Regions from separate parts of the Homo sapiens genome. Here region 2 is linked to region 1. Evidence: fine-mapped QTL for protein levels in blood plasma. A gene starts in region 1. The other region holds a variant in brackets. All regions are shown on one strand. Distances are between the middles of the regions.

What was found. A credible set is the group of variants that fine-mapping cannot tell apart. PIP is the posterior inclusion probability: the model's chance that the variant is causal. Protein levels are from the aptamer-based SomaScan assay of Sun 2018.
Region 2: its variant is the best candidate, but not a certain one, in a credible set for the plasma level of the ESAM protein (Sun 2018, PIP 0.57).

Annotation. Positions count from the first base shown.
Region 1 is chr11:124,760,502-124,769,307 of GRCh38, forward strand. ESAM (endothelial cell adhesion molecule) reads right to left here and starts at 1,789. Exons shown (of 7, transcript NM_138961.3): 1 at 1,584-1,789. The coding sequence starts at 1,653. MSANTD2 (Myb/SANT DNA binding domain containing 2) reads right to left here. Exons shown (of 4, transcript NM_001308027.2): 4 at 5,997-7,527. The coding sequence ends at 6,675. It overlaps ESAM-AS1 (ESAM antisense RNA 1), which reads left to right. Exons shown (of 2, transcript NR_120577.1): 2 at 4,228-5,424. RefSeq lists an enhancer at 1,344-1,847 and silencers at 1,578-1,987, 2,528-2,577, 5,692-5,986.
Region 2 is chr11:124,745,948-124,754,717 of GRCh38, forward strand. NRGN (neurogranin) reads left to right here. Exons shown (of 4, transcript NM_006176.3): 3 at 18-35; 4 at 457-1,263. VSIG2 (V-set and immunoglobulin domain containing 2) reads right to left here and starts at 6,308. Exons shown (of 7, transcript NM_014312.5): 1 at 6,130-6,308; 2 at 5,476-5,633; 3 at 4,767-4,974; 4 at 3,761-3,919; 5 at 2,697-2,816; 6 at 2,443-2,587; 7 at 1,527-1,720. The coding sequence starts at 6,190. The coding sequence ends at 1,588. It overlaps ESAM (endothelial cell adhesion molecule), which reads right to left. Exons shown (of 7, transcript NM_138961.3): 5 at 8,694-8,770; 6 at 8,267-8,393; 7 at 7,179-8,014. The coding sequence ends at 7,699. It overlaps NRGN-AS1 (NRGN antisense RNA 1), which reads right to left and starts at 1,018. Exons shown (of 4, transcript NR_197587.1): 1 at 826-1,018; 2 at 292-383; 3 at 1-51. RefSeq lists enhancers at 498-1,031, 5,506-6,067, 8,426-8,720 and a silencer at 998-1,257. The variant C/T (reference allele first, on the strand shown) is at 3,564.

The DNA.
Region 1 (8,806 bases):
AGCAGCACTGAGCCGCCGAGGAGCCTACTGAGCCGGAGAGCCTCCTCCAGAGCCCAGAAGAGCGGAGCCGGGCGCCTGCACGTTGCACCGGGGTCACCAGTGCCATTTAACCCTCGAGTGGCTGGCGGGAACTGGGCAACCCCCCAGGGGGACCGATTGGAACTTTTGAGTCCAGGTCTTCAGTCTGACAAACTGAGGCTCAAAGCTGGGGTAGGACAAAGGGTTGCAGATGAGCAGCAGGTGAAGCCTGGGACACTCAGGCAGTCAACTTGAACTGTCCTCCCTGGCTTCAGAGATTCCCCCAGCCCCCACCCCCCACAAGGAAGGGGGATAGAGTTGGGGTGGAATGCAGAAGGAACAGAGCTGAAGTTGAAGTTGGGAAAGGCGGGATGAGAAGTCTGAGGGATCCTGGAGCAGGCCCACCAAGCCCAGAGGGACAGAAGGCTACTTGTGGCCTTGGTGTGGCCTGGGGGGCTGTACTTGAGACTCATTTTGTCCAAGGACTATAATATTGCATGCCCCGACACCTGTGGGGCACAGAACATGCTAAAGGGGACACTGGTGATCCTCATCTCTGTCCCCATCATTGTAGAATTTCACTCTACAGCTTCCCAGGCCTTACTTGTCCTGACATCCTCCAACCTGAGAAATGAGTTAAAGTCAATATAGCTAAACCCACCCTTCACTCCCATTCGAGATCCTTGAAGGGAGATGGCAAGAAAGCTGAGGGACAGCAAGTGAAATAGTTTAAAAGGGCCTAGTCCTGCCGGGTCCTCTCCCAGATGGAGTTCTGAGCCACCCCAGCTTCAGCTGAAGCCAGCGCCCCTGGAGGCCTACAACACTTCCCAAACACTTGCTCCAAGGAGGTTCCCTTCCTCTCTGACCCTTGGCCACCCTCCTCCCAATTTCCCCTCTTCCCTTTGGCTCTGGAAACCAATAAGGGTGGTGGGCCTTGGGGGGGTGGGGTGGTCACAATTCTGTTTCTCTGTGCGTTTGAACCCCTCCCCCATTTCCTGTGTCCCAAATGACCTCACGGTCGTCCTTTTGGGGCACCTCCCTTGATTCCCAGGGCAGGAAGCAGGAGGGGGCAAGAGAGAGCATCTGCGCTGGGGAATTGACACGAAGTGCGTGTGTCAAGCCTGGGGACCAGGGGTATTTCCCCGGGGGATCTTCCTCATCAGCTTGTATGTGGGGTCGGGGATGAGAGGGGGCTAGAGTTAAGTCCTTAAGCTCTTTAGCCAGTGTCTCATCTAGCGGCTCAGCTCATCCGGCTCTGCTGGGTGGGGGGTGGGGAGTGGACAGGGTGAGGAATGGTTCCGATAACTCACCCCAGAGGTATCCAGGTCTTCCGAGAGATGCCCTTACCTCCCCCCGCCATCCGCCCCCACACCCAAACTGGGGGCTGTCCCCGACAAAGCGAGAAGTCAGCGCCAGCCAGTGATGCCCTGGAGTGGGATTAGGAGGTCAGGGGAGGAGGGCGAGTCGTGGGACCCAGTTCCGCAGCAGTGGCCAAAGTTCTCCCTCAGGGTCGAACTCACCCCATCCCGCATCCCAAGTCCCCTCCAGGTCCGGGTTTCACTCACCGAGGGCACTCAGCCCCAGGAACAAAAACCGCAGCAAGTTGGTCACCAGGGGCCCCGGGAGGGAAATCATGGCCCTCCCTGGCCGGGACGGAGTCAGGGGCGCCAGCCGCGGGACGCACGGACCTGCAGGTGCCGAGGCTGCGCGACGGCCGGAGCGTGCGCGGGAGCCGAGCCGCTGACACCCAGGGCGGCTCCAGCCCAAGTCTGCGCGCCTGTGTGCCGGTGGCGGGGTGGGGACCGACGGCGACAGCGGGGCGGGGCATTCGAGGGGGCGGAGAGGTCGCCGTCCTCCCGGGCGGGGCGCGCGGGGTCCGCCGCCCGGGGGCGCCCCCAGCGCGCGGACGGCGGGACCCTGCGGCCTCCTCCAGGTCTGGACGCAGGGAGGGGTGAGGTAAGCTCTGATGCCCCACGAGCCAGCCAGGTACGAGTAGAGGGGGAAGAGGAGGCTCCAGAACTATCCTGAGCCGTAACCTTCCCTTCCGCCGGGGTGGGATAGGAAGGGTGACCAGGAAGGGTGGGAAATTTGGGGACTATCCGAAGTCAGAACCACCCGTAACACCTGACATGTAAACGCTCCTGGGCTCTGGCTCCAAACTTGGGGGTGCCGCATCCCCGGCCCAATCAGGGCGGTCTTCCTGAAGGAGGAAGAGGGGAGCAGCGTTTTCCAGCTGCAGGGAGAGGCCGGAGCGCCGGCCGCGCGGGCTCCCTGGCACAGCGGGAATCTGTGGCTTTCCTGGAGGCGGGGGCTGCGCGGCCACCGGAGCGCGGCAGCGAGGGCGACGGCAGAGGTCGCGCGGGAGCCCAGGGCGCCCCGGGACGCGCCAGCGGGGAATCTTCACCCGCGGGCAGGAAAAAGCGCTCCGCGAGTTCAGCAGACCCCAGCCCAGGCTGGAGGATTACCCCGGCCTGTGCCTCATACTCCGAGCAGGGAAGGTTGGCACAAGGTAGTCCCGGGAGCTGAGCAGGAAACTGAGGCAACGTGCGTGCTGCTCCCAGCTTAGCCCCTGAAATGAGCGGCGTACGGGCCTGATGCTGACTGGGGAGGAGGGGCGGCTGCGGGAAGGAAGACAGGACAGTCCCTCCGTTTCTTCTTTATCCCCCAAATCTTCAGTGCCTCCCATCCCCGCAGCGAAAGGCTCAGGCGCGCTCTGATCCTTTAATTCCCGAGACTAGATCTTGGTCGCTGTGAATTGAATTTTACGCCCCCCTTCCCGCGCCATTCGGTCAAAAGGCACCTCTGCGCCCTCTGGCGGCCGCCGCTCCCTTACAGAAAGGCACGCACCTGTTCTTGCTTTTCTGTCCAACAGCCAAAAAAAAAAAAAAAAAAAAAAAAAAAAAATGCTTCAAACATCCCAGCACAGCTCAACCACCCAGCAAAGGTCAGTGAGGGAAGAAAGCATAACAACGAATTCCTGACGCTGCCCGCTCTGCGGGCAGAGCTGTCTGGGAAGAAAAGCAGCCAGGCCTGCGGGATTCCATTTACTGCACATAGTTTTGCTGTTTTAACAGAGTGTAGTCCCTGGGCCCACACTTCACACAAGATCTTTTTCTATACAGTGCCCCATATGCCCTCTCAGCTGCTTCTTTCTAGTGTGACCTGCCTGGCTCCTCTTCAAATACCTGCCATGCAGTGGCTTTGAGAAATGCCTATGCAAACACAAAACTGCTCATGCAAACCCTAGAATCTAGTACTTGGCAGCTCAGTGGAGGCACAGACAACAGGAAGAGATACCTGCCAGTCTCACACTCTTGTGTAGGGAGCTACAAACTTGGACTTGGCCAAGCAGATTGTGTGGTGGGGTTGGGGGCTGTTGGTTTGGTTTTCCTATTCCATCACACTCAAATTTTTCTTGGCTTTAGTCTGCATTGCAAACCATCTCTTGTAAACACCCCTCCTTTGTTTCCAGACAAGTCACCCCAAATAAGTAACTCCTTCCAAGAGAGGAAGTACAAAGTCTTTTGGTTCTAACCCAGAAACACCAAGTATCTAATCACACAGGCTGTGCTTATCCTGATCAAGTGCTACATAAGGTGTAGCCTCAACATTCATTCCCTGTAGCTAACTTTTCCTTCAGAATTCAGATCCCAAATGACTTGTGACATGGGAAGTAAAGCTGCAACCAATGATTTGTAGTCAGTGAATGTCTCCATGTGACACAGGGGCAGTCTCTTCAAGATTCTTTGACCGTAAAGAATTGTCCTCACTGTCTCCTGTCTCCTATTTCAGCTATTTCTTTCTTCTGACCCTGAGGGCAGTCAAGTCGTAGAAGTTAGCAGAGCAGCTCCATTACTTTGTGAAAGTTTTCACCAAGATGCATTTTAGGGTGGACTGCTCTCCACCCTGGTGTAAATCATGAATGCTGACACAGATGATCTATGTGCGACCTGGGAACTGCTTACATAAACGTGTGCAAGAGCTAGTTCATAGTTTCATATGTTAGAGACTTGCAGGTCATTAGTGTTTCTTCCAATCACATCTCATGTTAGATTCCGAAAGTAATTCCTAATATTTACCTTTACATTTGAATATACTTTCTCTGTCCCCCTTGAATCAGTTATAAGGCTTCATTAAGGTCTAAATATTCCATTTCTTATTTTCGGCAGTGCTCATAGTTATCTGACATCCTGCTATCTTCTTTTCTAGACTGTTCTGGCCAAAGAGACTGGAGATCCAGTATCAGCAAGCTACTTTCTTGGTAAACCTCCATTTCCCAATGCTCATCTTTGTCCTCTACCCCCACCCATCCCAAGGCAAATGATGAAAACATCTATTGGATCCAGCCTTTGCTATCTTCTCCATGCTGCTCATAGTGGGTCTAGCAATGTCCCATTCTCGGTAATGTTTGGTAGGTCTAAAACATCCTCACGAAATGTTCCCCAAATGTTCTGCTCCAGCTGAGCAACTAATAACAATGGGAAGATGCAGAAAAAAAATGCATGGAGCATAATGTTAGTTTTGGGACTCGTCAGTGGCAACGTTTTAGAGATGCCATGAAGAATTCCTGGTAATAATCCTTCTTCCTACAGCATTTAGCAATGAATACTATGGGATTATGGCTAAAAGATGGTCAAGACTGCCTCAGCCATTAGGATCAGAATTCTAAGTTCCAAAGAAGAGCAAACTCAAGAGGATTTCCTCAGGCCTCTGACTATAGATGCTGCCTGGGGAGAACAGGTGCTACACTCAAAACATTCTCATTTTATTTATATCCTCCCTGAACTAGTACCCAACTCCATAACCCCAGACTCAAATAACAGAAATAAAAGCCATCTCACTGATTATAAGCTCTCTAGTTATTACAAAAATAAATAAGCATCAATCAACCAACAGGCATCAGAATGAGAAAATCACTGATTTGAGACATTCAGGCTGCAGGAAAAGAACACTTTTTGTTAATATGTAACTATATCTTCAGTAGTACAGAAAAATGAGAAGAACGAGAGTTCTTACCTGGATTTGCGGCTCACTTAAAGTAGAGCACCTGAGATGCTGGGAAATCATAAAGATAAATAACCAATCTAACAAATTCCTGCCATGAGACCAAAGTGATCCTTGACTACTCTATTAGTAAGCGACTCTGAGCCAAGAGTACGAACCTGTAAGTGGAGTGGTGGTTGGCCCATTAGAAATCTCTGAAAGATCTAAACATGACAGTTACCTTCCTACTGGACTCATACTTCTCAATTCCCTCTCCTAAAAGAATACTTTTGGGCTGGCCCCAGTGGCTCACACCTGTAATCTCGGCACTTTGGGAAGCCAAGGTGGGAGGATTGCTTGAGGACAAGAGTTTGAGACCAGCTCGGTGGAAACATAGCACCATCCATGTCTCTACCAAAAAAAGAAAAAAAAAAGTGAAAAACATTGCTGGCGTGGTGGCACTTGAGCCTGTAGTTTCAGCTGCTCAGGAAGCTTTGAGGCAGGAGGATTACTTGAGCCCAGGAGTTCGAGACTGCAGTGAGCTATGATTGTACTACTGCACTCCAGCCTGGGTGACAGAGCAAGACCCTGTCTTAAAAAAAAAAAAAAAAAAAAAATTTCTACTGGATCTTCCTTCCTTTTGAGAGATAGCAAGATTACATCAGTTTTCCAGTTGTACTCCTTGAGAGCTGCCCCTGAGTACTGAGTGTAAAAGATGAGGAATGAGTCTCTTACAAATTGATGTACTTAGGGTCAAAAGGATTATCCTAGTCATTTTTAGTCATTTTTCAAAGAATTACAAAATGAGATGTTCAGTGACCTTTGGTACTCTGACAGTAAATAATGACATTGGTCAGTGAGGTATAGAGAATGAAAGGATGTGAAGATACCCTGCTCTGTTTGTTCTCTTCATTCTTAGCAGTCAAGTCAGAGCGCAGCCCCCACTGCCAGTGCAGCCACACTCTGCTACAAAAAGCTCAACTAGTACGCCAAGGGGCCAGGAATTACTTTAATTTTTTTTTTTTAAAAAAAGGTTTAAATGGCAACACAACTGTAAAGTTGGTACATCACAGAAACAAAGGTCTTTGCAAGCAATACTGATTGGAAATAGCAAAACACTTGGCTGGTGAAAAAAATGAAAATCTAAATTATATACAATAGTAGCTAAGGGTGATATTGAAAAAGTCTTTTTAACTGTGAATCAAGATTTAACTTGCCATTATCTATTGCTTATTTATTCAGGGTTGTAAATATTACTTATATAGAGACATAGAGATGTGTAAAAATGAAACATTGTGAAAAAAATACAATTTTTCAATTTCATATGAAACTCAAAGTATAAGTTTTGTCCAATATGGAATGTACCTACATTTGTTTATATTAGGGCTCTAAAATCCATTTAAAAATTGTTTTTCTGTTTTTAAAAAAGAAATAGCTGACCCACCATGCAAGTTCGCTATATATCTTGCTTGCTCAAAATGAGCATTTTCAGGTGAGGTCTGTTTTTTCTGGCCCAAGTCTACTATGATTCCTTAGAAGTCGTACTGGCCCAATTGAAGAAAGGGTTTCCATGAAGAGTCTGACGGCGGCATCTGGATGAGGGGTGGTCCGGGTAATGGGAAGTGAGTAGAGAAGAAGGAGCTAAGAGCCCAAATCCTTATGAAGGATGACATTCAGTTGTTAAATTTTAAGGGGTATCCAATGGCTTTTTCCAGGCACTCAACTAAAGAGCCTGCGGAAAGAAAATCCCTCTCTACTTCTACAAATTTGATGTAGATGGATTTGGGGGAAACTCCGGGATCCACAATACAGTTCTGAGACAAAAACCCGTTAATACCAACCCAATCTTTGCTGAAGGTTTTGGTATTCGCTTGGAAATGTAAAAATAAGCACTGCTGTAGAGTCCTGACCTCAGCAATCCCGAGGTAGCAATAGATAATTCGGGTGGGTTCTATTTCCACCTGTAATGAGGCTTGTGCTGAAAGGGTTTCCAGGTCAACCCGGCCCTCTTTTCCTGGGTCCAGGGAACTTTGCTCCATGTGTGGTGAGAGGGGCCTCTCAATACATTCTTCATAGCCAATGGCATAAAGGCCTGGGCTTTTAGGAATACCCCCAGGCAATAAATATTGAACAACATTCCCACCAGTTGGTTTGGAGTGGGCAATGGGTATCCAGTCAATTTCCATGTGCAGCTCCAAGCACCTAGCTTCGCTAATAGTGATCTCTAAAAATTTGTAGTAAACATTTTTCCAGTTCATTTTCTGCACTCGGGTCATAATGATCCGTCCTTCAGGCTTCTCAGAGTTGAAGTACTCCCGAAGTCGCTTGCCAAGGGGCACCTGGGAGCTGATCTCAGCATAATGGTAACGGATATCCTCTTTCCAACGGGTGTTATAACCAATTCCAAAAATGGCCAGTTTATTAGAAAGATGGAGCCTTGAAAAGTCTGTCCAGCTCTGAAAAAGTTCCCATTTCAACTGTACCGATTCCAAAATCTGTACAATATTCTGCATGATGTCTCTCTTCCTGGAAAGACAAATAAAAGTCAAATTCCCTAAGTATCTAGAACAGCGGTGTCAGATAGAACTTTCTGTGATGATGGAAATGTTCTGTATCTGCTGCCCAATATGGTGGCCACTAGAACATGAAATGTGGCTGAGGTATTACATTTTTAATTATATTTAGTTTAAAATTACATTTAAATAGCCACATGTGACTAGCAGCTACTGTACTGGGCAGTGTAAGTCTAGACAATCAACCTATTAAAATGAAAAGAAACACACCCCTAGCAAGTTTCTAAGAATTAATGATAAACTGCTTTCCATGACTTCTACAGCCTCACTGTATAATCAGAATCAATACCTTAGACTCTAGGATTTCAGAAATCTATGGATCATAATATTTTAAAGTGGCTATTATGTCTATGATGGCCTTCAGACCTACCTACCTACCAAAATAAGGTGAAAAATGCTGTATTTAGAAAAGTATCTGGCGTCACTTAAAATAATTAACAGCTTAATTTCTAACCTGGAAATTCAGAAAGTCCAATAATGGGCTTTGTGTGTGCTGTGGGAAAATATACAACTGATTATGGCTAATGACCTTTTTAAAATGACATTTTCTATTTGTCTGAAATTCATTACTAATCCCAAAATTAATAGAAGTCAGGTTAGCACAGAATTAAGATCTGGGAATTCAGATGGAAAAGGCTCACATTAGGCTTAGATTTCAAGAGAGCAACATTCAAGATAATAAATTGAGACTGTTCTAGAAAACCCTTTATAAAGGGAAGCAAAAATATAGGAATTATTTCAATTTTGACTCATATACTTAACAGAAGAAGACAGAAAATGCTGGAATTTTTATTTCACGGGCTGCTTAAATCATGTAATTTGTATATATATGAAGCTATATAAAGTTTGCTTCTCAAGTACAGCAAAACTTTGATACTGGAAGATTGGTTCGTTAAATATTAACTTGGCAACAAACTACTACCCTCCACATCAATTACGGGTTTAACCTATAAAAACACTCAACTACCACACTTACATACAATCATACACAGGCAAGAAAGGGGGTGTGCGTGCTAACAGCTTCTTGAAAACGGGCTCTGGAAGGAGCTTGATCCTTGAGACTTTTCCTGCTACGTTCTCATACCTTCTAGGGGAGGAGCTTTGGGAACATTCTGGCGAGGCTTCACGTGGCCATTCTCAGTCTGTCCTCTCGCTCTCCTTGACTTTCTTTGCAAGATGGCAGAGAATTAATATTTTGTTATCAGCTGCTTCTTGGAGCTAAGACTGCCCTG
Region 2 (8,770 bases), 15 kb before region 1:
GCCCTGGACCGAAGAAGAACTGAGCATTTTCAAAGGTAATGAACACGGCCCCTAGGCGGCGGGGTGGGACCCGTGAGTGGGAGAAAAGGATCGAATCCCCAGCCCTTCCCTCTGCCCACCCTCACCCCTCCCAGCCGGGGAAAATGCACCCTGCCCCTGCGGGTTTTCTGATACATCCAGACGCCCGAGGCTGCGACGGGGACATACCTGGACCAAGACATGCGCAGCCACCCCATTTGGCTGCACAAGCCCGGCCAAGGGGCAGAAATACATCGCGGCGCGCACACGTACCTGCCGCGGGGCTCATTTCAGCGCTTTGACTCGGGGTGGGGGTTCTGGGTGACTGGGGCCCTCTGGCACTCACCGCCCAAAGAATCCTGGTACTGAAAGGGGGAAGGGTGGGGGGAAGAGGAAGTAGCAGAAGAGGGCAGGTTCTCAGACCTTTTCTCTCCTCAGTTCCCGAGGAGAGATGGATGCCGCGTCCCCTTCGCAGCGACGAGACTTCCCTGCCGTGTTTGTGACCCCCTCCTGCCCAGCAACCTGCCAGCTACAGGAGCCCCCTGCGTCCCAGAGACTCCCTCACCCAGGCAGGCTCCGTCGCGGAGTCGCTGAGTCCGTGCCCTTTTAGTTAGTTCTGCAGTCTAGTATGGTCCCCATTTGCCCTTCCACTCCACCCCACCCTAAACCATGCGCTCCCAATCTTCCTTCTTTTGCTTCTCGCCCACCTCTTCCCGCACCCAGCATGCAGCTCTGCCTCCGCAGCCTCAGTGCGCTTTCCTGCGCGCACTGCGGAGGGCGCCCTAAGCGTCACCCAAGCACACTCACTTAAAGAAAAAACGAGTTCTTTCGTTCTGTGCGCAGCTAAAAGGGGCGCCCTACATCTCCGTGCCACTCCCGCCCCAGCCTAGCCCCAAGACTTTGGATCCGGGGCGAGATGAAGGGAAGAGGGTTGTTTTGGTTTCGGACGACCCTTGCTCTGACCGGAAGAGAAGTCCCTATCCCACACCTGCCTGTCACGTTCCCTCCCCTTTCCCCAGCGCACTGTTGAGGGCAGCCTCTCCAGCTCTCTTGTTTATGCAAACGCCGAGCGCCTGGGAGGCTCGGTAGGAGGAGTCTTCCACGGCCCCGCCCCGCCCCTGTCGGTCCCGCCCTCCCCCCCGCCGGGCTCCTGGGGCTGTGGCCGAAAGGTTTCTGATCTCCGTGTGTGCATGTGACTGTGCTGGGTTGGAATGTGAACAATAAAGAGGAATGTCCAAGTGTTCAGAGGGTGCCGGGGGAGGGAGTTTGGGTGCACAAGGCCTCCGCTTGCAACTTGAACAAGCCTCCTTGGGCCAAACCAGAAACCAACAATCGGGGGCTGGTGGGGTGAAGTGGAGGGGCACCTAGGTTGAAACCCACCCCTTTGACCCGACCAAACTTCCTGCCTACCTTTTCTCGGACTTCAAGCCCATTCCTTCTCTTACTGTTAATACTCTGAGCCGCCTAGAGGAATTCGCCATACCAGCAGAAAGAAGAAGGAGACAGTATGGTACCCACAGACTTTAATTATTGATATTCCCCCTCACCGCCCTCAGGGATCGGGAGAAGTCACACGACCATAGGGAGCTTGGACTTGGTGGTCGTCACGGTGCTGGCAGACGAGGGTCTTTCCAGGAACCCCTTGCTAGAATCAGCCCTCATACAAGTGTGCTCAGAGATCCCAGGAGCGATGGCATCCTCCCTGATGGGTATAGGCAAGTTCTGAGTGAACAGTAGAAGCCTCCTGCGGAGGAGGGCCGTCCTCTAACCTGGGGACTCTTAAATTTCACTGTGCTTGAGAATAATCTGCGGAACTTTGGTTAAAATGAAATTTCTGGGCCTCATCACTCCCCAACGCACAACTACAGGAAGGCTAGAAGTGGCCTGAATCTGAATGTATAACTAGTTCCCGGTGATTTCTGTCCAGGTAATCTGAGGACTCCACCTGGAGAAATGTTGCTCTGATCCCTATCCTAGACCCTGACTGGCAGCTAAAGTGGATGACAGAGGCAGTTTCCCCTCCCCTTTCCTGATTTCCTCCACAGAAGAATTGAACTCAGCTGACTGCTCAGGACAAATCCATTTCCTGGCATCTACAAGCCACTACTACTCCCAGGTGGTTAAAATATATGAAAATACCTTCGGAACAGAAAAGTAAACTTTATTAAATATGAGGAGGGGCAGGGCAGTCCTGCAAACAGCTTCCCTGCCACAGCTTGTGGACCAGCCACTCCACCCTGTACCGCTTGCCTGTACCCTCAAATACACAGGTTACACTGCTGCCACCAGCAAATTCCACGGCTGAACAACACCTCCTGCCCCTAAACACACTGAATGATGTCGGAGTTTGAGGGTTGCAGGCACCCGCTTTTAACTCAAGCCCTTTCCTCCCTCCTTGCGCCACCCCCCAGCCCTCCTGCTCACCGAAGGTCACTACCCCCATATGTCTCCTTGGGCTTCTTCCCCCTCTCTTTCTGGAACCTGACCAGGCAGAACGCAGCAACTGACAGCAACAGCACGCCCAGGAGCACCCCAATCAGAGCTCCGGCCACTCGGCCTTGGGAGGGTTCTAAGGAGATACAGGACCCTCACTCAGAATTGCAGGCTTTCCTCGGCCCACCAGCCGACAGCTTCCCCAACACAAGGCTGCTGGCCTGGCCTCCACCCAGCATCCCTACCGGTCACAGAGAGGGTCAGCTCACAGGATGCACTGCCCATCTGGTTGGTGGCCACACAGCGGTAGGTGCCCGAGGAGGTCAGGGAGAGGTTGGTGAGAATGAGCTGGCCAGACACCTCATCTAGAGGATGAAGAGGAAGTGTTCCACGACTCATTCAACTCAGTGAGCAGCTCTACGAGGACAGCACATTTCATGTCATCCTTATAACAATCCTGTCAGGGAGCAACTAATTTTTTTTCACTGGGGAGGAAACCGGTTCAGAAGAAGGAAGTAGTGTGTCTGAGGTGACCCAGAGAGGAATTCCAAAGCTGCTACAACTTACCTGTTCTTTCCACCCTACATAGCTGCCTTTTTGGGAGGAGGAGGACTGCACACTCATGAAGGATTCAGAAACTGGCAATGGAGTCGGGGTGGGGTGCTTACTGGCTGATGTCAGGTTCCTGGTTTGGGGTAAAAGGCTTGATTGCTAGAAACTGCATCCTGTAGGGTGGCTCTAAGCTGACACAAATGCTTTTCTAAACTGTTTACCTTTGCCTTAGAAGGCAGAGCACATACCAGGAAGGTGATCTGGGGGTGGGTCATTCATTTCTGGATTGATAAAGGAGTTTGCTGGGGCTGGAGAGAGAACTGGATCCAGGAAGAGGAAGCCAAGAAACTAAGGCTCCTCCAAAGAAACTGGTTAAAAGATTCCAGCCAGTCCATGCTACTCTGCCTCAGTTTCCTCTCTAGGAAGTTTGGAAGTGGTCCACGACCCTTAGGAAACCTAAAAGAAATCTCCCCAAGGCAGATGGGTGGTCATCATCAGATTGCTCCCTGCCCTCTACTCTCTTCCAGGATATCAGCAGTATATTCAGCTTGAGAAATACC[C/T]CCAGGATCATGCAGCCACAGACTGCAGAAAGACAGGCAGGAGGGAACAATACAGGAAGCCAAGGAAGAGACAGGGAAAGGTATAGTGGTTTGTGTCATACCCCTAGTCATGGAACGGATAATACGGGTGTGTGGGATTTAGAGACCAGATTTGCCCAGGTCTCCAGTACCCTCTTCCTGATGCCCTGGGCCCTTACCTTGAACCATGCTGCCAGGAGAAGGTGTAGGAAAAGTTCCAAGACGCACCCAGTTGTACACTGGCTTAGGAGCCCCCTCGGAAGAGCTGCATCTCAGTGCAGTAGAGCCTCCCACAGAGGTTTGTCCACTCTGACTGCATAAGGGATTACTGGGGGGAACTGCAAAAAAAAAAAAAAAAAAAAAAAAACAGAAAGTTCCTCAGCAATCTTCCAGCCCCACTCCCAACTCCATTAGGTGCTACATTCTCTACTTCAATACCCCTATCAAACAGTGGTCCTCTTGGGTCCACACACCACTGCATCCCCAGGAACTGAGGGATTTCCACTATTGGAAATTCTGATTGTTAGAGAAAATTCTTCTTCATGTTGAGCCAAAATGTGTGTTAACATAACCTCCACCCATTGGTTTCAGTTCCTGCCCTTTGGGCCCACAAAGAGAAATTAAAATCTCTCCTCCACATGACAGCCCTTTGGATAGTTGAATCCAGCAGTAATACACCCATCCGAGGCCTTCTCTTTTCCATCTAAACACTGCCAGTCTCTGTGATAGTTTTTCTGGTTGCTCATCTCTGAAAAGGCTCTAGTTTGGGGTGAGACAGAAGCTCTGAGCACGAAGTTGGTGCTCAGTAATAGGGGCCCTTGTTCCTTTGGTGGCCACTCCCCTTCTCTGCCATTGACCTTGGGAGGGACAGAATCCAACTACCGATGAGAGCCTCCCCCATGATGGAGCTGCTGGGAGCAGGCTCAGATCCCCATGTATGGGAAGGACTTTCTCTCACACACTCTGTTATTAGGCTCTGATGGAGGAGATGCTCTCGGTGGAGGGTGGAGTTGGAGTATGACCATCTGAATTAGAAGACTTGGAAAGGGAGTATTTTCACTTGGGGCCCCCAGTGCAGTTGTGTGCTTGGGCTAAAAGTCAGAAACCAGAGATTTAGCAAGACCAGTGCAAACGCCCCAAGTATGTGAAAGAGTATGTGGCTCGTGGATCCCCAGTCTGCCTTACCCAGCACAGTAAGGTTGATTAGCCCCAACCCATTGGTGTAGAAATCTGGTGGGTTGTTGACTTGGCAGAGGTAGGTTCCAGTATCTGAGGGGTGGACGTCAGTCAGTTTCAGTGTGGCCACCCCCACTGTGGGGGGGTTCTGAAGCAGGCTGACCCGCTTTGACTTAGAACCAGTTGGATACAGATGGCCATTGGTGAAGTACAGGATCTGGGGAGAGGCAGAAGACACACATATGTGCCTGTTTCTGCCTGGCATCAACTCTACAGTCCTTCCTCATCAAAGTGGGTATAAGAGGCCTCTGACTTACATCAGCCAGGGAGGCTGATACCCTTAAGCTGGAACTCCAAAGGTCTCTCTGTCCCCAAACACCACCCCCTTTCAGGTGCTAAATGAACCTGATCCATTGGTCTCTCTCTCTCTCTCTCAAAGAGAGAGGCAGAAGAGGCAGCATATTATCTTGGTATCAGTCACAACACCTTAGTGTCAATGGATACACTAAGGCAGGGGAGTTGGAAATAGGAGCTATGGAAGAGGAAAGGAAGATACACGGTCAGGCAGACTGCAGCTCTGAAAAGATCTAGGGAGAGCCCACTTACCTTTTCATCCAAGCATACTGATCCCCAAACTCCCCCTCCCGACCCCATGCCCTCATCCTGGGCTCCTGTCCCTCCAGGCCAACCCAGCTTCATGCAGTCGCTCTCAGCTCACTGGATGGGACTCAGAGATGGGTTTCCCAGGCTGCACAAAGCTCCACTCCAGGGCGAAGCTGTCTCCCACCGACGTGCTGTAGGTGCAGGTCAGCTCGGCTGTCTTCCCCAGGGGCGTGCTCAGCGGCTCTGTGGGTACCTTCACCTCCACGGCCAGCCCTGGGGCCGGGGACCAGAGGGAGGTGGGAACCCAAATTCCAGTGATCTGGAGGGTCGGGCCCACCCCCGGGCATCTATATTGGAAGCTGGGGGCTCCCTCCCCAGAGCACAACCCTCTCCCCTCAATCCAACCCCTCCCTTCCCAAAACCTGAGGTTTCCGGGAGGGGCCGGGTCTTTGTGGGTAAAAGAGCCGGAACCGGGCCAGGTAAGAGGGTGTGTGTGTTTAGCAGAGAAAGGAAAACACTAGCCCTGCGGTGGGGTGGTTCAGGCCTGTGCCGCGGAGAGGCCCAACTCGCTCGCCGGCTTGGGGGTCTCTCTCCTACGCCCTCCGGGCCTTGGACACCCCCTCTCCGGCCTCACCTCAGGCGCCTTAGGGCCCCTGGCGCCCACGGCAGCCTCATCTGGCCTGGCGGGGACAGAGTGGGTCCGAGGAGCCGGGGAAGCCAGGCCTATGCCCCCCAGCCCTCGCCGTGGTCCCGCCCGGCCCCTCCTCACCACTCAGGCACAGGAAGCCTAGCAGGGCCCCGCAGAGAAAGGGCCCCGGGAGCTCGGCCATGGCCGCGTCCGGCCGTCCTGTCCTGCTCCTGCCAGGTGGGCGGTCAAGGTCGGTCTGGGTGTCGGGCAGGGAAGGGAGCACCCAAGGGCAGCCGCCCGGGCTGGGCAGGAGCGAGACTGGTATCTCAGAGCAAACAGGGGAGAGGCCGGCGCCGCAGGTTAAAAAAAAAAAAAAGTGCTCCTCCCTCCTCTCCTCCAGCCCCGATTCTGCAATCCCTCTGTCCCTTCTTCCTCCTTCCTTCCTCTTCTCCCCAAGGTCTGAAGCTGTCCGGCCTTGGGAAAAGCGCTGGGCTTGGGGTGGGCCTTCTGCAGAGACGGAAGGAAAGCTGACTTTGGAAGGCGTCCTGATACCCCAGAGCTGGCAAGGGGAGTCCCCACCTCGGAGCCTCACTGTGAGTGTGAGCCCCAGGCCGCAGACCCTTCCTGTCCACAGCGCTTTTCATTTCACCACTTACTGAGGTAGGAGTCTCTGTAGAAATGAGCATCTCTCCATTTCCAGAGCCACTCCATTTTAGGGGCAGAGAAACTGAGACCTAAAGGAGACCTCACCCTTGGTAGGAAAGAACATGGCAGAACTTGGACACAGACCTGCACCTCATACTATGCCCAGCTCTCCCTCAGTAACAACAGAGATCTCTTCCAGATGGGCAAGGAGTGTTTTGTTAAGGATTCCGTGGTGTGGGAGAGGAGCCCACGTGAGCTTCCTCTCCCCTGTCCCTGAAGAGGAAGCAGATGAGGTACACGTACCCCCTAGCCGGGAGCACTCAAGCTCCAGCAGAAAGCGTATCAACTCCATCCCTCTGCTGTTCAGAGTAGCTTAGAGTCTCCTCCCCTTCTCCACGTGACAAACAAGGACCCTTCTAAACACTAGAAGAGCTGCTCTAAGCCTGTGGGGGGAAGCCCTCCTGGGTACACAGCTTGGGAAGGGGTCCACTTTGCATCCTCCTGAAGCTCAATTTCAAGAATTCTTAGTTTGAAAAGGCAACTTGTTTCTTATCTCATACAAACATTATGTATCTTTATTTAAATTTGCAAATGAAAACAACACATATTTCATGTTAGTTTTAATAAGAGATTCCCTATCCTCTGCCCCAGTAAAACCTAACCAAGCCAGCCTGACAGGTTATATCAATACAGGGAGCTGGAGTGGGAGCCAAGGGTGGTGTTAGATAGGGGTGGGGTACAGATCAAGGGGGCCTGGGAGACTCAGTGACTGGAAGTCTCTGCCCCTCACTCTTGGTGAGTAGCTAATTTCAGCAGCTGGCTTCATAAGGAGGAGTCAGGGGTGGGTGGAGGCTCCTCCCAATTCCAGATCCACTTCCTCTTCTCCTTCTGTCTCCTGGACACTTAGGTCTTACTGAGATGGTTTTCCCACAGTAAAGAGAGGTGGGGGCAGAGTACTAAGGGTCAGGAGTGTGACTCTTTCCCATGACTCAGGCCTCTGTGCTAGAGGTGACCCTTATAGGAAGGAGAGACCCCAAATCCTTTAGCCAATGAGTGGTGGGGTCATCATACCAGAGAGCCAGCTTGACTCTGGGCAGGCACCATCACAGGCACAGCACCCATGCGGCTCAAGCCAGAGGAAGAAACCCCACCAGGGATGGGGGATATTGGTTGAGGGTGGGCCCCATCTGTCGTGGGCAGTCTTGGTGAGGGCAGGGCCTGGCTGGAGAGACTGGGCGTGGGGGTCAATGCACCAGGCCTGGGAGGGCCATGGGGTGGCCGGAGGGCTCGTGCGGAGGTGACAGAGGAAAGGGTCCCATTCTTGGAGATTGTGTCTGAGCTCTTGGGCCAGGGCAGGGTCCGGGGAGCAATGGCATCCTCCCTAGTCATCAAAGAAATAACAAGAGGTCAGAAGTGGGTGGGGGAAGGAGGAGAGAGTTTCTACCTGCTTGGTCTTATATACCACCTCTGCCTGCACACTTCAGTACTCCTTTCCCTCTCCCTTAAAACCTGCCCATAGGAATGATGTTTCAGCCACTGACCCCATCCCAATAGATGAGAGCTGCCTGAATTCCCAGCCTCTGTGAGGAGAGCTGGGAGAGCCCCCGCTGCAGCAGACACCAGGGACACTTACTTGATATCATTGGCTGGCTCCTCCAGGGCCTTGCCCCGGCGGTGGTACAAGAGGACCAGCCCAGCCAGCAACCCCAGTCCAACCAGGGTACCCACAACAGCTCCAGCAACCACTGCAGCTCCAGGCCCTGGAAAAGGCGTCGTGTCAGAGGAGGACACCCAGCTGAGGGGTTCTCACCCCTCTCCAATCCCACTCTCCCCACCCCATCTGCCACCATACACATTCCCTCTTTTTCCCTGTCAAGAAGAGGGGTGGCTGTTGAGCAGGAAATGACCAGTCACTGACCAACCATTTGTACAAACATTTGATCAGGGGAAGCTCCGTGCCCTGCTACAGAGACAGGCCTCAGCAGACAGGCCTCCTCCCCACTTGCAACCCCTCCCCCACCATTGACCACTCTTCTTAACCACACTTACCCCTCACTGACCTGTGCTCACTTCCAGCGTCACATTACATTGGGCAGTGCCCACCTCATTGTGGGCCTTGCAGACATAGACTCCAGCC